Regions from separate parts of the Homo sapiens genome. Here region 2 is linked to region 1. Evidence: fine-mapped expression QTL. A gene starts in region 1. The other region holds a variant in brackets. All regions are shown on one strand. Distances are between the middles of the regions.

Region 1 (11,447 bases):
CCTTCTTGTTTCAGCTCTCATACTGTAAACGAGTGTCCTTTTCACAGTTGATTTACTGCCATGTTTTTAACACTTTTGTGCTTTTTGTTGAAGATTTTGCCATTTAAAATGGCTCCCAAGCATAGTTCTGAAGTGCTCTTTGGTGTTCCTAAATGCAATAAGGCTGTGAAGTACCTTATGGAAAAAAATATGTGTTAGGTAAGCTTGGTTCAGGCATGGGTTATAATGCTGTTGGCCATGAGTTCAATTTTAATGAATCAACAATATATATTAAATAAAGAATTCTTAACCAGAAGCACACAATAACCAAGTAGACTGGTGGACCGTCTGAAAGTTGATGAAAATGTGACCAGAGGCTTGCACAACCCTAAGCCAGGATTTCTCTGAGCAGCAGTGAAAACAGTATTTGCTAATTCAGTGAATCTGGCAACTTCATAGAACACAAGTGCCACAGACAACAATAATTTAATGTACAGTTGTCCCTTGATATCCACAGGGGATTCGTTTCAGGACCCCTGAGGATACCAAAATCTGGGGATGCTCAAGTCCCTTATCTAAAATGGCGCAGTGTTTACTATAACCTATGCACATCCTCCCATACGATTTAAATCATCTCTGGATTACTTATAACACCTAGCACAATATAAATACCATGTAAATAGTTGTTATACTGTGCTGTTTTAATTATTATTTAATTAAATTAATTAATTATTTTATTTATTTTTGAGATGGAGTCTTGCTCTGTCACCCAGGCTGTAGTGCAGTGGAGCAATCTTGCTCACTGCAGCCTCTGCTTCCTGGTTCAAGAGATTCTCGTGCCTCGCCCTCCTGAGTAGCAGGGGCTACAGGAGTGCACCACCATGCCTAATTTTTGTGTTTTTAGTAGAGACAGGGTTTCACCATGTTGGCCAGGCTGGTCTCAAACTTCTGACCTCAAGTGATCCGCCTGCCTTGGCCTCCCAAATTGTTGGGATTACAGGTGTGAGCCACTGAACTTGGCCAGTTTTTATTATTTTTATAGTTGTATTATATTTTTCATGTTTCCAAATATCTTTCATCTGCTGTTGGTTGAATCTATAGATGTGGAACCTGTGGATATAAAGGGCTAACTGCAGTTCTCTTTTCACTCACCTATCAACTCCTTGAGATAGTGGTTTTCACTCAGCATTTTCATGTAATCACAATTCCTCCCTCCAAATATCTTATCATCTGACTCACATTTCCACCATATGACATTCTCAGAGAACCAGAGACGGGTTTGGCCAGACATCAGAACTAATGAGAAGGAGGGACTCCCTCAGGACTTTCTGTGTGTTTGTGTCTTTCTTCCTTCTTTTCCTTTATAGTTTAACTTTCTCTAGATATTTAGTCTACATGGCAGAGAGTATGGCTGCCAATAGCCATTGATTTTCACATCCTACCATCCAAATAACCAAGGAGACTGTCTGAATCTCTCCTCAGGCCCATACATCCTGAGAAAGCTTGAGTCAGGTGCCCCTGGCTGTGACTAGAACGTGTGTGTGGTACTGTGAAGTGTGTAGTATTCTGGCTACAACTCTGGGTGATAATTAAATCTACAACTGCATAGCCTAATACAGTAGCCACTTGTCACATGTGGCAATTTATATTTAAATATTAAGTAAAATTAAATAAAATTTAAAAATCTTCAGCCACACTGGTCATGCTTCCAGTGCTCAGCAGCCAAGTGTGGCTATTAGCTGCTCTCTTAGAACAGATATAGAACATCTCCATCATCGCAAGAAGTTCTATTGGACAATACTGCTATAGATGAAGAGGAATCTCTCAGAAAAGAGATTAGGGTTAGAAAGGAGTATTTCTTACCATTTGACCCAGCCATCCCATTACTGGGTATATACCCAAAAGATTATAAATCATGCTGCTATAAAGACACATCCACATGTATGTCTATTGCGGCACTATTCACAATAGCAAAGACTTGGAACCAACCTGAATGTCCAACAATGATGGACTGGATTAAGAAAATGTGGCACATATACACCATGGAATACTATGCAGCCATAAAAAATGATGAGTTCATGTCCTTTGTAGGGACATGGATGAAGCTGGAAACCATCATTCTCAGCAAACTATCGCAAGGACAAAACATCAAACACCGCATGTTCTCACTCATAGGTGGGAATTGAACAGTGAGAACACATGGACACAGGAAGGGGAACATCACACACTGGGGCCTGTTGTGGGGTGGGGGAAGGGGGGAGGGATAGCATTAGGAGATATACCTAATGTTAATGATGAGTTAATGGGTGCAGCACACCAACATGGCACATGTATACGTATGTAACAAACCTGCACGTTGTGCACATGTACCCTAAAACTTAAAGTATAATAAAAATAAAAATAAAAGAAAGGAGTATTTCTGAGCAGATAAATCTGTAGGTGTTTCTCATACCTTCTCTGCCATAGTCGATAAAACTGACCCAGACTCTTTGCAACAATTTCTTCCTCTGGCACTTAGAACATTTTTATATTCTCACAATTGCCCTGTGATTCTTCCCCTTTCAGTTTTCACCCTCCCCTAAGTATCTGGACTGTTCCTGTGTTTTGTAATACCACTGTATATTGCTGACTTCTAAATTTACATCTGTCTCAGACCCTTCTTCTTAGCTCCAGACCCACAGACCTAACTGCCTACTTAATATCTCCAATTGGATATATCAAATGTCACTTGGAATTAATACCTCACACTGAATTCTTAATCTATCCTAAATCTCCTTCTCTTTGCATGTCCCCCATCTCAATAAATGGCACCTCTATCTGCACAGTTTGTTATGCCAGAAGCCTTGGAAAAATCCTTGCTATCTTCTATCTTCTTTTGCCTCAGTCTAATATATCCCCAACTCTGATAAATTAAAGATTCAAACTATTTCTTTAATATAGCTAGATTTTTTTTCATTTTTATTGCTACCATTTAATGTCACACTCTCCTTTCACTTTGCTTCTAACATTTATTCAACTTTCTGTTCCTGCTCTAATGTCATCTTCTCACAGAACCCTTCCTTGTCCTCTGATCTGGATTCCACCTTTTACTGTCATCACACATTATGCTTTTGCTTTTCACAAATGTATTGGGTTACATATGTAATTATTTGTTTAGTGTCTAGTCTTCTCTAGCCTCATGTAATGTCTTCTCTAGCTTGATAAAGGCAGGAAATACGTTTGTTTTATTTTCCTGTGAATCTGCTGTATTTAGCACAGGGCTGGACCTTTAGCCCTCAGTCAGTACTTAATACCTTTTCAGAACACATTTTTATGAGCTTTAGAAACTAGTCTTCTTCCCTCTTAATGGTTATGGAGGTCTTTCAGGTTCTGTGTATCTTCTTATGGTTTCAGCTTTGACCCTGAGAATGACTCCCTTTCAATGTTACAAGACCTGGCTCCTCTTCTTGGAGACATGCTTGCAAAATTCACCCCTCCTTCCTGCCTCCCTGGTTTTCCCACAAGAATTCTCTTGAACTCACATGACTTCTTCCTACAGGAGATCTCCAAGCCTGCACCTCCAGCCCATCCAACCACAAAGAACTTTGAAACCTCTTAACCTGTCTTGTCATCTTAGTTCATGCAAATAGCAACCCCTAGAGATTTGTAGTGCACAGCCTGAACAACCACAGGGGCAAACTTCCCTTCCTGTCTCTGAAGTCTCGCTTTATCCTTATTGTCTCACCCCTAGAACTTCAAGGAGCCTCATAACTCATAGCCCAATCCCTACTCTTTCTGTAGACCCATTTTCGAAAATGCAGAATTGCAGAATTGTTCTGCCGGAAGACACCTCCAGAACATCTTACATATCTGAGTGTGTAAATGAGGAAACATAGGTTTAGAAAGTGGCAGGCTAGTCACTACAACCAAGACCTTCTAACTTTCTGTCTGGTGCTCTATGACACATACAGCCCCCACTGTGCTCAGAGGTCCTCATGGAGCTTCCTTTACTAAATGTAAAAGACTAAATTCATTTGCCTACAGTTTCCTTTTCTTTCCTTTCGATCACTTTATATTTTCTGAACTGCCCACACTTACCTTATGCATTTTTGCTGGGAGACCTTTGTTCTTCCTGTTGATCTTACCTAGAATATCTTTCTCTAGTTTTATCCTCTGTTGTGAATCTTGTGTTTCAAGCCTCAAAGCATGTCTGATACATAGCGGGCTTTAATGTATTTGCTGTTGAATGAATGAATGAAACATGTAATTTAGTCAATTTTCCCCATATTGACTGTGGCTAAATTTCTATTGACAGAAGTCAACAAATATCTACCACCATATCCTGAAGTTTGCACCAAAGTGGACAGTACTGAAAAATATGCACCTGATGTGTTTGACTCTCAAAAAGCAGTGATTTCTTAAAGCAGTTGGGAATTTTACCCTATTAATTGCTCACTTGGGTAACCATGCAGTTGATCTCCTCGACTGATCTATCTCCTGTCTTTCCCAAAGCAGATATTGATCCTGATTTTCTCTGATTTGAAGACTGACAAGTAGAGGCAGGTGAGAAAGGAAGCCTGTGGGAGACACAGGGAGAAAGGAAAGTCTAGAAAGACACTAGAAGGCCTGAAGAGGAGAAATTTATACTATGACCTCAACCAGAAACAGGTTAGAGACCTTAGTTCTTAAAAGGGAACTTGTATTGTAGGTATTATTTAAAATGTAAATTGAATCCAAGAATGATTTTAACATTTGGTTTCTGGTCACTAAACCTGGCAATAAGTATAAACAGTTTAAAATAATCACAAAGTCAAATGATTTTGCTAGAAAATGAAGATTTCTTGGTCCACAGCTTGTTGCACTGAGTATATTAACCTATGTTAAGAAGTTAGCTCCACTCTCTTTTAATGTAGTCTGCTAAATAATTTTTAGACATCTCTATAGAAATGAAATTTATTCAAAAAAAGGACACAAATTAGTTTGCAAAATTCAGAAATATAACTGGAAAAGCAAGCATAAAGTCTTACATTAAGTGGTTAGTTGCTTATCCCTTGTTGATGCCTATTTTATTTGAGAGATATCCCAGTTGTGCTATGCTAAGTTTTGAAGGTCTGTGTAGTCTTTAACTTGATCTTTAAAAACAACAGAATTTGAGTGAATGTCAATAAAACCAGTGAATTATAAATATTCTGTCTTCTAGCATGTTTGACTAGGGCTGCCAATAAACAAAATTATATTTCCTAGGACTTCAGGCATGAATACTAATCTATTGAATTTTAATTTAATATTCTATGAGGAACCTAGGAGAGTATCAACAATTTAGACATCTGTTGAGTTATTCTCAGAATAAAACTGGACATGTGAACATTTCAGGAAATGAAATAAAATTCTTAATGTCTTTGTATTAAAATGCAACATATATACATACATATATACACATATATTCACATATATATACATATATATATTACTATTATGACTTTTTACCTAAAAACCCCAGTTACTTGAATTAGCTATTAGGCACAGAATTATTCGACCCTGTCCCCATCCCTCTCCCATGCTCACACACTAGCTAGTATTTCTGATGGTAAAATTAATTCTTGCCACAGAATACAGGTCTTTACTCCCATTCCCCAAATGACCTAAAACCACTAAAATGGCAGAGTTTCATTCAACACTGCAGCTGCTATTTTGTCTCCAGCAGGATGATATAAAGATTAGGCTATAATCAAAAGCAAAAATTCTTGCATGTGCATTGCAGCTAGAAGAGCTCTCTTTATGCTATGTGCCTCTTCACAAATTACAAAGCAAATGATATAGGAGTGTAGCTCCTAAACTGGTCTGTCTGAACTGATAACACTGAATCACTAGTTGGCTGGGGTGTCCACCCAGATGGGAAAAGGAGGTGGATAAAAGGGAAATGAGGTTGTAATGTTGTTGACTTCAGGCCTCAAGGAAGAGACAGCTGTGGATTTTCTTAGGTGAGGAACAATGTCAGAGGAGAACATAATTCATTATAAGACTCATGGGGAAACAGTCAAATGAAGAAGCAACAAAGCAGCAACAAAACCAAACCCAAGTCTTGCCCCACTGTGCAGCTGCAGGACAAAGACAGAACAGAAGCCTGTAATTGGGGAACAAAGTGTTGTTCTTTCGGGCATTATAAAATGAAGCCTTCAGAAATCACTCAATCTTGTCATTCCAAACAGTTTGATGCATTTGTGAAAAAAAGTTTTCCTTTTTTTTTTTTTTGAAAGGAGTCTTGTTCTGCAGCCCAGGCTGGAGTGCAGTGGCGTGATCTCGGCTTACTGCAACCTCTGCCTCCCGGTTCAAGTGATTCTCCTGCCTCAATCTCCTGAGTAGCTGGGACTAAAGGCGCCCACCACCACACCTGGCTCATTTTTGTATTTTTAGTAGAGACAGGGTTTCGCCATGTTGACCAGGATGGTCTCGATCTCCGTGTGATCCACCCCCTCGGCCTCCCCAAGTGCTAGGATTACAGGCTTGAGCCCCCGCGTCCAGCTGGAAGTTTTCTTTTCTTTTTTTTTTTCTTTTTTAGCAGTGTACACCTTTTAAAACTGCAATTGAGTACTAAATAATGGAGTAGTTTTGTTCAAAAGCAATATTTATTTTTCATGAAGATAAGAGGCATATTACATTCGCTATAGAAAATGCTATGAGAGGAAAAAGCTGCATGTTACCGATATGACAAAAAACATAAAAAACTCTACTTATGAAAGTGTTTTGCCCTATAAGAACATATTCAATAAAAGGCATTATTCCAGGTGAATGAGCCATGCGGAAATGTGGATTTATTAGGGTTTGTTTTGAAATGTAATTTGTACGGCCAGCTTTTTATTCCTTTGATGGCTATCAAATAGATTTATTGGCTACATGTTAGAAGTGCAAAAGATAACAGGTAACCAAGGGAGAAGTTTTAATAAAACTCTCAGGAAAGGCAAAGAAAAGTGAGTGAATATGCCTGCTTACATTTCAGCTAATAAATAAAAAGTGCAGATAGGGCTTTAACTGAAAACCTTGCTGGTTATTGCAGCCTGGAAGGTTTATTGAAAACTGGGTAGAACACTCTCATTTTTTATATTTACAGCTACATTGTGAGCTGTTCAGGTTAGAGTGATGTAACGTTCATTTTGACTTTGGTACAGGAAACTGATGTTTTCACAGGAAACTTGCAAAGCAGTTATGAAGAGGAAGAGCGTTCTTAATTATTAGTGTCTGCCTGAGCTATTTCTGATTGTGTTCTGGGATTTTAGAGAATTGAACAATAGAGTATTTAATTTTACCACTCCCCTCTTGAGTAAAAACATCAGACACTTTTAGGAAAGTTTTAGAAGGTACATCTTCAATAAGCAGAGATCTTTCATCTCAAATAACTGGGAAGAATTGCACTGCTTAAGAATAGTTGAACTTGGACCTGAGAGCACCATACTTAGAAATCTAAGTATATTTAGGTCACTCATCTAACACTGGGACTTTACCAGCCCTGTCACCCAAACTGGTTGTAGTTAGTAGGACCACAAAGTCACTGAAGAAATCTGCTTTCCTTTTAACTTTCAAGGCAATAAGAAAAATGTAGTTCTCTGTTAGCAGTCCCTGAGCTATCTGAATTTCGGTGTTTCTCTCTTAAGCCTCTTGCTTTGGAGGATGATGAATCATTTCCTACTCCTGGAGTTAGTCTCCTTTAAAACAGACACAAAGGAGGCAGAGAGAAAAAATTACTCTAAATACCATTAACCAATGTAAAACAGTTTTCTATTAAACAGTAGGACAGCAGGGCCAAACTTGTGTTACCACAATTGACAACTGGCTTCTTAAAGCAAGCTCCATAGATTAAGAACCATAGCCTCTAGGACTGATTTTACTTGGTTCAGAAACAGGAAATCAGAACAGTGAGCAAGTATACGATTAGAAATTTACATTAATAAAATGTGATTTTTTTGATACACAAAAGCTTTTAGGTTGTAAATAATCTATGATGGCCTGCCAAATATAAAATGCCATTATAAATCCATGTCTATATTTCAAAAAGACGGGAACACAAAAGCAAGATACATTAAATTAATTGGTGTAGTTTGGAGAGTTCGAATCCATTATTAGATATGGATCCTATCAAATATCCCACCTAATTTCCAGTTACGTCGATGTTTCAATGTTCACTTTTTAAGTTCTCAACTACCCACATCTTTCACTGAACACCATCTGGAAAGGTTCATACAGAATGCCCATGCCATTCTTGAAAGGATTTGCTTTTGTGGAGGGGTTTTGCAAAGAAAAACAATTCAAAATTCTGTTACAGCTTATACATTGTCTTTTGTAGGACTATAATAAAAAACCTTCTAAGTAAGTTTTTGAGATAGGTGTTAAATGAATAAGCATGCCTCAGCAAAATGCATAAAAAACACAATGATTTAATTTCTAAAGCACTTATATTATTATGGCATGGTTTTGGAGACAGGTTATTATAGTCCACATAGGTAAGTATGCAGTGCTTCTCATGGAAAAAATGCTTAGGTATTGGCCTTTTCTCTGGAAACCATATTTTTCCTTTTTTAATAATCAACTAAGATGTATATGTAAGAAAGCCTCATCTTTTGATTTTTAATATACAAGATGCTTTCTTTAAGAGAGCAAGATTCAAAATTGTTTTGTGTTTCAAAATTTAAAAATAAATTTATCTCCTAAATTTTCTAAAGACATGTTTCATATATTTGACCATCCCTTATTTTGGCAAAGGATTTTAAGAGTCTAACTCAAACATATGTAAGCTCTGGTGTACCTGGTTATATATACCAAAAAAAACATTTGATCTATATACACATAGACATGAATATATTTCTGTGTGTGTTTGTGCATATATAACCTCAAACACTATTATTAAATGCAATCCTATATTCTTAGGTATAGAAGTTGATGATATACCTTTCTACTTGCCATGGCATTAACAAAGCAAGGCTGAGACTCAGCAACCACTTGTGTTCATTGCATTGCAGGCTAGTAGTAAGTTTGGTTGCTGGTAGGAAAAGGGTCTCTTATCTCACCCTCCTTAAACTAAAGGTTCTTTCAGGCTTAATGTAAGGATGTGCACATTCTCTTATCGAGGTGGTCTTGAGCTGCAGATACAATCACATCGTTCATGGTGATCCAACTGGATGTCAACTAGAGCCATGGTCTTAGCTCTACCCCTCCTCTTGATGTGGCCAGGCTCAAACTGTAATACCTAGGACAAGAAGCACATCTCCTGTTAGAAAGCCTTTGGAGTTCAACTCAGTCAGATGCCACCTACTTATTACCTTTTTGACAACTAGTTCTTAGCCCTTTGAGAACCCAACAGAAGCTATGGGCTTGCTATTAGAATGCACACGTTGCTATTAGAATGTACACATTTTTCAAATAATTGACTCCCTGAAGTGGAGGAATCAATTGATCCCAGAGTAATGCCCAGCATAACTTACCTGAAGTACCCAGATGATTTCATGTGTCTTAGCAGGTATTTATTAATAGCTTTCTAAGGGCCTGCTTTGGGCCAAGTACTGTTCCAAATATTATCGTAAAGATCCTTCTGACCAAGGCATGTGTTATAGATGAATACAATACTTGAGCATATTATTAGCATGGAGAGGAAAATGAATACAACCATGAATAAAATATGCTGGTATATCTAAATCTTTGGTTGAAGTAAAACATGTTGCCCTGGAGTTGCTGGCAAGATGGCCGAACAGGAACAGCTCTGGTCTGCAGTTCCCAGCGAGATCAATGCAGAAGGCGGGTGATTTCTCCATTCCCAACTGAGGTACCCAGTTCATCTCACTGGGACTGGTTAGACATTGGGTGCAGCCCACGGAAGGTGAGCTGAAGCAGGGTGGGGTGTCCCCTCAGCCGCGAAGTGCAAGGGGGTGGGGGATCTCCTTCCCCCAGCCAAGGGAAGCCATGAGAGACTGTACCAGGAGGAATGGTGCACTCTAGTCCAGATACTGCACTTTTCCCATAGTCTTTGCAACTGGCAGACCAGGAGATTTCCCCCAGTGCCTATGCCACCAGGGCCCTGGGTTTCAAGCACAAAACTGGGCGGCCATTTGGACAGACACCGAGCTAGCCGCAGCAGTTTATTTTTCATACCCCAGTGGCGCCTGGAATGCCAGCAAGACAGAACCATTCACTCCAGGGATCCAAGTGGTCTGGCTCAGTGGGTCCCACCCCCATGGAGCCCAGCTAGCTAAGATCCACTGGCTTGAAATTCTCCTGCCAGCACAGCAGTCTGAGATTGACCTGGGATGCTTGAGCTTGGTGAGGGGAGGGGCGTCTGCCATTGCTGAGGCTTGAGTAGGCGAGGCGGTTTTACCCTCAAAGTGTAAACAAAGCTACTGGGAAGTTTGAATGGGGCGGAGCCCACCGCAGCTCAGCAAGGCCGCTGTGGCCAAACTGCCTCTCTAGATTCCTCCTTTTTGGGCAGGTCATCTCTGAAAGAAAGGCAGCAGCCCCAGTCAGGGACTTATAGATAAAACCCCCATCTCCCTGGGACAGAGAACCTGGGGGAAGGGGTGGCTGTGGGTGCAGCTTCTCAGACTTAAACATTCCTGCCTGGAGGCTCTGAAGAGAGCAGCGGATCTCCCAGCACAGCATTTGAGCTCTGATAAGGGACAGGCTGCCTCCTCAAGTGGGTCCCTGACCCCCATGTATCCTGACTGGGAGACATCTCCCATTAGGGGCCAATAGACATTTCATACAGGAGACAGGGTCTGGAGTGGACCTCCAGCAAACTCCAGCAGACCTGCAGCAGAGCGGCCTGACTGTTAGAAGGAAAAGTAACAAACAGAAAGGAATAGTATCAACATTAACAAAAAGGACATCCACTCAGAGACCCCATCTGAAGGTCAACAACATCAAAGACCAAAGGTAAATAAAACCAAAAAGATGGGGAAAAACCAGTGCAGAAACACTGAAAATTCCAAAAACCAGAACTCCTCTTCTCAACCAAAGGATCACAACTCCTCGCCAGCAAGGGAACAAAACCAGATGGAGAATGAGTTTGAGGAATTGACAGAAGTAGGCTTCAGAAGGTGGGTAATAACAAACTCCTCCGAGCTAAAGGAGCATGTTCTAACCCAATGCAAGGAAGCTAAGAACCTTGAAAAAAGGTTAGATGAATTGCTAACTAGAATAATCAGTGTAGAGAAGAACATAAATGACCTGATGGAGCTGAAAAACGCAAGACAAGAACTTCATGAAGCATACACAAGCTTCAATAGCCAAATCGATCAAGCAGAAGAAAGGATATCAGTGATTGAAGATCAAATTAATAAAAGAAAGTGAGAAGACAAGATTACAGAAAAAAGAGTGAAAAGAAACAAACAAAGCCTCCAAGAATTATGGGACTATGTGAAAAGACCAAATCTACATTTGATTGGTGTCCCCCAAAGTGATGGGGAGAATGGAATCAAGTTGGAAAACACTCTTCAGGGTATTATCCA
Region 2 (11,447 bases), 140 kb before region 1:
AACATCATAATGACAGGATCAAATTCAAACATAACAATATTAACCTTAAATGTAAATGGGCTAAATGCTCCAATTAAAAGACACAGACTGGCAAATTGGATAAAGAGTCAAGACCCATCGGTGTGCTGTATTCAGAAAACCCATCTCACATGCAGAGACACACATAGGCTCAAAATAAAGGGATGGAGGAAGATCTGCCAAGCAAATGGAAAACAAAAAAAGGCAGGGGTTGCAATCCTAGTCTCTGATAAAACGGACTTTAAACCAACAAAGATCAAAAGAGACAAAGAAGGCCATTGCATAATGGTAAAGGGATCAATTCAACAAGAAGAGCTAACTATCCTAAATATATATGCACCCAATACAGGAGCACCCAGATTCATAAAGCAAGTCCTGAGTGACCTACAAAGAGACTTAGACTCCCACACAATAATAGTGGGAGACTTTAACACCCCACTGTCAACATTAAACAGATCAATGAGACAAAAAGTTAACAAGGATATCCAGGAATTGAACTCAGCTCTGCACCAAGCAGACATAACAGACATCTACAGAACTCTCCACCCCAAATCAACAGAATATACACTCTTCTCAGCACCACACCACACTTATTCCAAAATTGACCACATAGTTGGAAGTAAAGCTCTCCTCAGCAAATGTAAAAGAACAGAAATTATAACAAACTGTCTCTCAGACCACAGTGCAATCAAACTAGAACTCAGAATTAAGAAACTCACTCAAAACCGCTCAACTACATGGAAACTGAACAACCTGCTCCTGAATGACTACTCGGCACATAATGAAATGAAGGCAGAAATAAAGATGTTCTTTGAAACCAATGAGAACAAAGATACAACATACCAGAATCTCTGGGACACATTTAAAGCAGTGTGCAGAGGAAAATTTATAGCACTAAATGCTCACAAGAGAAAGCAGGAAAGATCGAAAATTGACACCCTAACTTCACAATTAAAAGAACTAGAGAAGCAAGAGCAAACACATTCAAAAGCTAGCAGAAGGCAAGAAATAACTAAGATCAGAGCAGAACTGAAGGAAATAGAGACACAAAAAACCCTTCAAAAAAGCAATGAATCCAGGAGCTGGTTTCTTGAAAAGATCAACAAAATTGATAGACCACTAGCAAGACTAATAAAGAAGAAAAGAGAGAAGAATCAAATAGATGCAATAAAAAATGATAAAGTGGATGTCACCACCGATCCCACAGAAATACAAACTACCATCGGAGAATACTATAAACACCTCTATGCAAATAAACTAGAAAATCTAGAAGAAATGGATAAATTCCTTGACACATACACCCTCCCAAGACTAAATCAGGAAGAAGTTGAATCTCTGAATAGACCAATAACAGGCTCTGAAATTGAGGTAATAATTAATAGCTTACCATCCAAAAAAAGTCCAGGACCAGACGGATTCACAGCTGAATTCTACCAGAGGTACAAGGAGGAGCTGCTGCCATTCCTTCTGAAACTATTCCAATCAATAGAAAAAGAGGGAATCGGCCGGGTGCAGTGGCTCACGCCTGTAATCCCAGCACTTTGGGAGGCCGAGGTGGGTGGATCATGAGGTCAGGAGATCGAGACCATCCTGGCTAACACGGTGAAACCCTGTCTCTACTAAAAAATACAAAAAATTAGCCAGGCGTGGTGGCGGGCGCCTGTGGTCCCAAGTACTCGGGAGGCTGAGGCAGGAGAATGGTGTGAACCCAGGAGGCGGAGCTTGCAGGGAGCCGAGATTGCGCCACTGCACTCCAGCCTGGGCAACAGAGTGAGACTCCATCTCAAAAAAAAAAAAAAAAAAAAGAGAAAAAGAGAAAAAGAGGGAATCCTCCCTAACTCATTTTCTGAGGACAGCATCACCCTGATGCCAAAGCCTGGCAGAGACACAACAAAAAAAGAGAATTTTAGACTAATATCCTTGATGAACCATCAACGCAAAAATCCTCAATAAAATACTGGCAAACAGAATCCAGCAGCACATCAAAAAGCTTATCCACCATGATCAAGTGGGCTTCATCCCTGGGATGCAAGGCTGGTTCAACATATGCAAATCAATAAATGTAATCCAGCATATAAACACAACCAAAGACAAAAACCACATGATTATCTCAATACATGCAGAAAAGGCCTTTTACAAAATTCAACAGCTCCTCATGCTAAAAACTCTAAATAAATTAGGTATTGATGGCACGTATCTCAAAATAATAAGAGCTATTTATGACAAACCCACAGCCAATATCATACTGAATGGGCAAAAACTGGAAGCATTCCCTTTGAAAACTGGCACGAGACAGGGATGCCCTCTCTCACCACTCCTATTCAACATAGTGTTGGAAGTTCTGGTCAGGGCAATCAGGCAGGAGGAAGAAATAAAGGGTATTCAATTAGGAAAAGAGGAAGTCAAATTGTCCCTGTTTGCAGATGACATGATTGTATATCTAGAAAACCCCATCGTCTCAGCCCAAAATCTCCTTAAGCTGATAAGCAACTTCAGCAAAGTCTCAGGATACAAAATCAATGTCCAAAAATCACAAGCATTCTCATACACCAATAACAGACAAACAGAGAGCCAAATCATGAGTGAACTCCCATTCACAATTGCTTCAAAGAGAATAAAATACCTAGGAATCCAACTTACAAGGGATGTGAAGGACCTCTTCAAGAACTACAAACCACTGCTCAACAAAATAAAAGAGGATACAAACAAATGGAAGAATACTCCATGCTCATGGATAGGAAGAATCAATATCGTGAAAATGGCTATACTGCCCAAGATAATTTATAGATTCAATGCCATCCCCATCAAGCTACTGATGATTTTCTTCACAGAATTGGAAAAAACTACTTTAAAGTTCATATGGAACCAAAAAAGAGCCTGCATTGCCAAGTAAATCCTAAGCCAAAAGAACAAAGCTGGAGGCATCACACTACCTGACTTCAAACTATACTACAAGGCTACAGTAACCAAAACAGCATGGTACTGGTATCAAAACAGAGATATAGACCAATGGAACAGGACAGAGCCCTTAGAAATAATACCACACATCTACAACCATCTGATCTTTGACAAACCTGACAAAAATAAGAAATAGGTAAACTATTCCCTATTTAACAAATGGTGCTGGGAAAATTGGGTAGTCATATGTAGAAGGCTGAAACTGGATCCCTTCCTTATACCTTATACAAAAATTAATTCAAGATGGATTAAAGACTTAAATCTTAGACCTAAAACCATAAAAACCCTAGAAGATAACCTAGGCAATACCATTCAGGACATAGGCATGGGCAAGGACTTCATGTCTAAAACACCAAAAGCAATGGCAACAAAAGCCAAAATTGACAAATGGGATCTAATTAAACTAAAGAGCTTCTGCACAGCAGAAGAAACTACCATCAGAGTGAACAGGCAACCTACAGAATGGGAGAAAATTTTCCAATCTAGTCATCCGACAAAGGGCTAATATCCAGAATCTACAAAGAACTCAAACAAATTTACAAGAAAAAAAAAACAAACAACTCCATCAAAAATTGGGGAAGGATATGAACAGACACTTCTCAAAAGAAGACATTTATGCAGCCAACAGACACATGAAAAAATGCTCATCATCACTGGCCATCAGAGAAATGCAAATCAAAACCACAATGAGATACCATCTCCCACCAGTTAGAATGGCAATCATTAAAAAGTCAGGAAACAACAGGTGCTGGAGAGGATGTGGAGAAATAGGAACACTTTTACACTGTTGGTGGGACTGTAAACTAGTTCAACCATTGTGGAAGTCAGTGTGGCGATTCCTCAGGGATCTAGAACTAGAAATACCATTTGATCCAGCCATCCCATTACTGGGTATATACCCAAAGGACTATAAATCATGCTGCTATAAAGTCATATGCACACGTATGTTTATTGCGGCACTATTCACAATAGCAAAGACTTGGAACCAACCCAAATGTCCAACAATGATAGACTGGATTAAGAAAATGTGGCACATATACACCATGGAATACTAGGCAGCCATAAAAATGATGAGTTCATGTCCTTTGTAGGGACATGGATGAAGCTGGAAACCATCATTCTCAGCAAACTATCGCAAGGAGAAAAAACCAAACACCGCATGTTCTCACTCACAGGTGGGAATTGAACAATGAGAACACTTGGACACAGGAAGGGGAACATCACACATTGGGGCCTGTTGTGGGGTTGGGGTAGAGGGGAGGGATAGCATTAGGAGATATACCTAATGTAAATGACGGGTTAATGGGTGCAGCACACCAACGTGGTACATGTGTACATATGTAACAAACCTGCACGTTGTGCACATGTACCCTAGAACTTAGAGTATAATAAAAAATATATATATATAAAATAAATAAATGAAAAGAAAAAAAAAGAAAAAGAAGTCTCTTCCTTCCCAGGCCCTATCCTCTTAATTCCTCTTCCTGGGAAAGACTACTTTGGTACCAGATTTTTGGGTATTTTTAATAAATATTTTATATATTTATAAATATGTGAAAATGTTTTATTATTTTTCATATCAAAGTGATTTTTTAAAATATTAAGCGTGCATACTTTAAGACACTTGTTATAATTCAAATACTATATAAGTTATCATTGGAAGTCCCAATAACTTTCATAAATATCCCTTGCTGAAATGGGGGAACCTTTAGTTACCAGATAGGAAAGTACCAGCAAGGACAGCTCAGAATGTGACACCACAAGTATACCTGGAACTTTCCTTGTCTACTCTGGGACTGGGCTTCTTATTGAAATATATAGTATATTTTGGTTTAAGTTTAAAATTTTTTATTATATAGGCACATAAAGTGTCAATTCACTCTACAAGATTGTTTAAAAAAAGAAAATAGCACAACTGTCTTTCCCCTACTTACCTCTTCCCAGGAGCAACCACTTTCTTCTCTTTTAGTTGATTAGGTCTCTTAAAAAGATGTTTGCATTGCTACTTCGCTAACACCTTTAATCTTCCCTTTAGTTAACAATTTTTTGCCCGTTTTGTTTATTTTTGCTTATTTTCCCACAGACAAGTTACTTATCCACTCCCCTACTCCTTGCTAAGCTCCTCTGAAAATATTTAGAGATGTTGATTAAATTTTACTTCCCAGAACAGTTTCTCCCGACCTGCTCCATCCTGGCTTTGTCTTTGGGCTTGAGGCTGAGCTGCCATTCTGGGAATTCTCATGATAATCCAGAAGATTCTCTGCCTTCTTGCCTATGTTGTATTTTTTCTTTTCTATATCCTATGTCTCCCACTTATTGTCTTTCCACTTAATTTCCTGGGATGGAACACATTCTCTATTAACTTTCTGAGAAAGGATTCAGGAAGGCAATTTTGTTGGAGACTTTGCATTCCTCAAAAATTATGTATTCTACTCATCAACCTGATTAAAAATTTGGCTGGCTATAGAATTCTAGTTTAAAAATAATTTTCTTTCAGAATTTGAAGGCATTTACCTACTGCCTTCTAATATTTGAGTGTGCTATTAAGAAGTCTGAAGTCATTTTAATTCCTGATCATTTGCCTGGGGCCTATTTTTTGCTCTTTGAAGGAGTTTTCTTCTTTTCCCTGTTGTTTGGAAACTTCATGATGATGTGGCTCAGTATGGGTTTATGTTTATTCACTGAGTTGAGCAAACAATGGGTTCCTTAAATCTGGAAATTCTTGTCCTGTAATTTGGGAAAATATTCCCTTTAAATTTTTATTTTACATAGTATAAAATATTTATTTTATGATTTCTTATCCTCTGACATTATTTTTTCTTTTATAGTCATTTTAGTGAGATTTTAGAGGGCAAAGTTAACGCTATAGTCAAACTGTCTTCTTTATCCAGAAGTTGCAATTCTACTTTTATGAATTTTTTCTCTTTAGTAATAATTTTTTACTAAAATGTATTAGTTATAAAATTTTTGTAGTAATAATTTAGTAATAATTTTTTCTCTTTAGTAATAATTTTTGTATGAATAAATAATTCCAAAATATCTTGGCCAATGTTATACCTACTTACAGTATTGTTTATGTTATAGAGTTTCCAGTAAAGACATAAAATTTGAGGTAAAATTGTAAACGTGATACTAAAAGATGGTATCTTGACATGGCATTAACACAGTGATAGAAAGAAGACTCAGGAATACCCAAGTCTTGCCTTGTTTTAATCTTCCTTCCTGTATAAGAGGTTCCTGAAGGAGATTCGTGCCCAGGGGAGAAAAAGAAAGTAAAGGTGATATTTTGTTATTAATTAGAGATTTGGTCCCAGATCTTTAAGTTGAACTTTAATAAGAGAGGCTAGAATACAGGAAAGACACATTCTTCCTTATCTAACTAGGGTTAACTACCTAGAACCAAAGAAGGCCATGGTTTCCAACTTGATTAATTATAAGATCACACAGGAATCTTAAATTTCACTATTGATGTATGGAAAAAAAGACAAATCCAGAACACTCCCAGAATAGCACAGAAAAGGCCAAAACAGATAAATGTTGAGAGAAAAAGTTTGTCCAGGACCTACAGCATAGCTAGTTATGGGAATAGTCCCAGAAGAGGTGCATTGTGAAAGTACAACAAAGAATGAAATGGAAAGGTGAAGAAGTTGCTTCCAGTGTCCCTGGCTACCATTTGCACCATTTTGCTTTACTGGGAGGGAAGAGACAGAGAATGGAAAAGATAATTTTTAAAATATCTTGTTTTGTCAAGTAAGAGTGAATCCCTGAGAGAGAGGCAGATGCCATCACTGGCACTGTCACCTAATCATTGCCCTTCAACTTCCCAAATCCTTACTTCTGATAGAGATCCATGCTTGCAGGACTTAGGATGG[T/C]GGCTAGGAGCACAGGCCTTTGGTTTTGTCCCTAGTTGCCAATATTTTAAGCACAGTTATGATTTAGTAAGAAGCAGTTTTCAACCTAATTATTTCTCTTTTCTCTATTTCTTCCTCCAGATCTAAATATGGCTTCACCTCTCTCTGGTCAGGGGCAATTAACATTAGGTTAATTCTACTTTTATGAATTTTTTCTCTTTAGTAATAATTTTTTACTAAAATGTATTAGTTATAACATTTTTGTAGTAATAATTTAGTAATAATTTTTTCTCTTTAGTAATAATTTTTGTATGAATAAATAATTCCAAAATATCTTGGCCAATGTTATACCTACTTACAGTATTGCTTAACTGTAAGTTAACAATGACAAATGACAAATGAACTTATTGTGTATAGCAATCATGATAATATTTATATTTTAGAAATGACCTCAAATGCGAGGGAGAAAGAAACAAGGTAGAAGAAAGGAAGGAAAGAAGAGAGGAAGGAAGGAAGGAAGACAGGCATGCCAGTAAACATGTATTGGGCACTTGCTATACACCAGGCACTGTGCATCTTGGTTTCACAAATCTCTCAATTAATCCTGACAACATTAATGAAAAAATAATAGCCATATATATATATTTATATATATAAATATATAAATAAATATATATAAATATATTGTCACCCAGGTACTAAGCAAAGTACCTGACAGTTATTTTTCCTGATCCTCTCCCTCCTGCCATCCTCCTCCCTCAAGTAGGCTCCAGTGTCTGTTGTTCTCTTCTTTGTGCCCATTGGTTCTCATTATTTAGCTCCTGCTTATAAATGAGAGCATGTGATATTTGGTTTTTCTGTTCCTACACTAGTTTGCTAAGGATAATGGCCTCTAGCTTCATCCATATTCCTGCAGGGGACATGATCTTGTTCTTTTTTTATGGCTGCATAATATTTCATAATGTATATGTACTGCATTTCTTTATCCAGTCTACTGTTGATGGGCATTTAGGTTGATTCTGTGTCTTTGCTCTTGTGAATAGTGCTCCAGTGAACATACGTGTGCATGTATCTTAATGGTAGAATGATTTATATTTCTTTGGGTATGTAACCAGTAATGGGATTTCTGGGCCAAGTGATAGTTCTGTTTTTAGTTCTTTAAGGAATCACTACACTGCTTTCCAAAATGGTGGAACTAATTTACATTCCCATCAGCAGTGTATAAACGTTCCCTTTTCTCTGCAATGTCACCATCATCTGTTATTTTTTGACTTTTTAAAAATAGCCATTCTGACAGGCGTGAGATGGTATTTCATTGCAGTTTTGATTTGCATTTCTCTAGTGATATTGAGAGATTTTCATATGTTTGTTGGCTGCATGTATGTCTTCTTTTGAAAAGTCTCTGTTCATGTCCTTTGTCTACTTTTTAATGGGGTTGTTTGATTTTTGCTTGTAAATGTGTTTAAGTTCCTTACAGATTCTGGATATCAGACCTTTGTCAGACGTATAGTTTGCCAATATCTTCTCCCATTCTGTAGGTTGTCTGTTTACTCTGTTGATAGTTTCTTTTGCTCTGCAGAAGCTTTTTATAATTAGATCTCATTTGTCAATTTTTGCTTTTGCTATAATTGCTCTTGGAAAAATAATAGCCATTTTTATGAGTGAGGCAATTTACCATCTGGTGAGGATCAAGGGATTTGCTTAAGGCCTCATGGTGAATCTTGATACCAAAAGGGGAAACTGAAGCAGGTGTTCTTATATGTGAACAAGATCAAAATAGTAAAGGCTATTATTGGAAATTTTGCTTTACTAGAGATTGTGTCTGCCATGACTCTGTAATAGAACCCTCCAAGTCACAGACCTGTCTCCAGGCACTCAGAATCTTGGGTCTAGAGCAAAACAACTCATTCCATTCATAGGTGGAATGAAGGCTCCTAGTCACAGGTCAGGATTAGACCAGGAATGGGTGGGTCTGAACCAACTCAATTTAAAAGTCTCAAAGATGACTGCTAAGTGAAACTAGAGAGTCAAGTCTAGTAAGTGAAATTTTTTCAGTTGAAGAATTTAAAGATGGTGTATTTCCAAGGAATGAAAAGATACAGGCTATGGTCATGTTACTAGATTTCTAAACTGAAGAGGGCAAAATGAAAAATAAAATCAATGGATTGTGAGCTTAGGGTTCTTCTGGTTATATCATTCATTTCCCCAACTCAGTTGAGTTCAACACACATTTAGTGAGTCCCTGCCATGCAATAGAATTGTGTCCTGTCCTAAATAGCCATTTCTGGCTATTATTATTACATCTGAAGATACAAAGGTAAAGTAGCGTTCCTGCCCTTTATGGGTTTGGCCTAGTCTATTGGTTTCCAAGCCTGCCTGTGGGGCAGAATTATCTAGAGAGCATCTTTTAAATCTCCATCCCAAAAGATTCTTTCAGAATGTTTGGGGTGAATCAAGGGATTTTGAATTTTTAACAACTTTCATGGGTGAGCCTTATGTACCTTGTGCATTTCTAGCCCATAGCAAGAATTTGGGCATAAGTGATCTCATTCAGTTGAACACTGACATAATATAGGATGATGGAGAAGAAGACTGACTTCTTCAAACATGTAATTCTTGAATATATAGAGAGAGTGAGCAGTAGGTTAGAAGGGGGCTTGGAACAAAAATGGGTAGGGGGATCATTGGTTGATCTCACAATGAGGGTGAAGGTGAAGGAGTGTGGAAAGCAATGGTCTGGAAGTCACAGTGAGATTCCAGTAGGACAGACACCCCCAACACAGAGGGAGTATGGAAACTGAAGCCATAGCCATTGAAAAGGCTGTAAGGAAAGCACCATCGTTGGAGATGCCAGCTTCCTGGTGAGGCATGGAAGTTGTGGGGGGAAGTAGCAATGTGGGGAATAACTTTGGAAAAGCAGTCAAGAAGGGCAGCAAGAGGAAAGTGTGAGGAGTGCAAATTAACAGGCACAAGATAGGCCAGAGAAGGTGATAGCCTGATTAGCCAGGAAATGAGTTTGGGAGAGAATGGGTGTACACTTTGTGTCATGACTGTGGAGGACTGAGCTAAGGGAGGACAGGGTCTACAGGTAGACAACATAATTTGCCTGTACTCTGTGTACTGCCACCCTTCCTCATTAAGCACATAGTTTACAGGCCACCTTATTTTTTATGAATCCCTAAGAAGTGAAATGCTTTTCCCAGATGTCCCAGCAAATTTATTCCAAGATACTGAAGAAACAAGACAATTCTCCTTTATAGAACCAAGCCTATGTCCTCCTCGAGTCCTTTTATTATTATTTTTTGAGATGGAGCCTTATTCTGTCACCCAGGCTGCATGAACTCGGCTCACTCAACCTCCACCTCTCAGGTTCAAGTGATTCTCCTGCCTCAGCCTCCTGAGTAGCTGGGATTATGGGCATGCGCCACCAGGCCCAGCTAATTTTTGTATGTTTAGTAGAGACAGGGTTTCAACATGTTGGCCAGGCTGGTCTTGAACTCCTGGCCTCGAGTCATCTGCCCATTTAGGCCTCCCAAAATGCTGGGATTGCAGGTGTGAGCCACCATGACCTGCCTCTCTCTCCAGGCTTCTAAGGGGTTTGATAACTTGACATTAAGAGAAATAATAAAGCTGTCTAACGCCTTGATATGCTGTGCTTTTCTTGGTAAAAATTAAAGGGAGGCTGGAAAACCTTTACTAAAAGAAGACAACTTTGCCTAAGGTTTTTTGGCTGGCAACAACCCCAGGACTTACATAGAAAGGACAGACTGTCAGCAGGCTCATGGAGAATTCATTGTAATTAGTTCTTAAGCAGCCTGATCCCTTGGTAAATTCTGGAGTGAACTCAGTTCAGGAGAAACTGCAACAGCAAATTAGGAGTTAATTGAATGTCATTCATTTCCTCTTTCTCAGCTGCTCCAGGGCTATTTATGCAAACTTTTCCTGGGGGAGCCTACCTCTATTCTCTGTAAAGTGTTAATGACAACTTTCTTTGAAGAGCTCTTGCTATTTGCTTGTTCATTCCATGCTTTATTATTCTTTCCATAGGGTGATTAGCAGATAAGTGGCATTTCTGTTCCCTCCCCAGGCAGTAGCAATAAAATCTCCTATCCCACATTAACATCATGATTTATCATTGATATTCATATCACAGACATGAATTGGGAGTCAGAGACACGAGCTTGTATTTGAGGTCTGCCACTTCTAGCTATGTTACTAGATTAAGTTACATAACCACTCTGAGCTTTATATTTGTTCAGTGGTTATATGGAAGCATAATCGGACCTACTGTTTGGTTGTTGTGTGGATTGAGTGACATGATGCATGCAAAATGCTTAGCAAAATGCATTAGTCTCATTAGTGTCCTAAAAGTGGTAGCATACTTTAGCTTTACAATCATTATCTTACATAACTATTATTTAATTATTATCTAAATCAGCCTTATAATAATCTCATGAGGTAGTCAGGATAGTTCTCATTCTGGCATCATTCGTAGCAAAGGCAGGGGATCTATAGGAAAAAGAAAGCACATGAATAGATAAATGTATAACATCTTATTTCCTACCTTATTTCAATCAGAGGAGGTGTAGAACTAAGGAACCCAAGTAAGGTCTCCGACAA

Direction of the effects. Positions count from the first base shown, and alleles are read on the strand shown. Sizes are in standard deviations (SD) of each study's normalised expression.
As copies of T replace C in region 2, the expression in ovary of the gene that starts at base 6,247 in region 1 goes up (large effect, 1.0 SD a copy in GTEx).

The links.
Region 2: its variant is fine-mapped to the expression of PDGFDDN in ovary (GTEx, PIP 0.92).

Annotation. Positions count from the first base shown.
Region 1 is chr11:103,900,624-103,912,070 of GRCh38, forward strand. PDGFDDN (PDGFD downstream neighbor) reads right to left here and starts at 6,247. Exons shown (of 4, transcript XR_947960.3): 1 at 4,057-6,247. It overlaps PDGFD (platelet derived growth factor D), which reads right to left. Exons shown (of 7, transcript NM_025208.5): 7 at 6,566-9,196. The coding sequence ends at 9,071. RefSeq lists enhancers at 3,428-3,517, 3,938-4,107.
Region 2 is chr11:103,758,213-103,769,659 of GRCh38, forward strand. No RefSeq gene overlaps it. Among named protein-coding and RNA genes, the nearest start is that of MIR4693, 86 kb to the right of the region's middle. The variant T/C (reference allele first, on the strand shown) is at 6,849.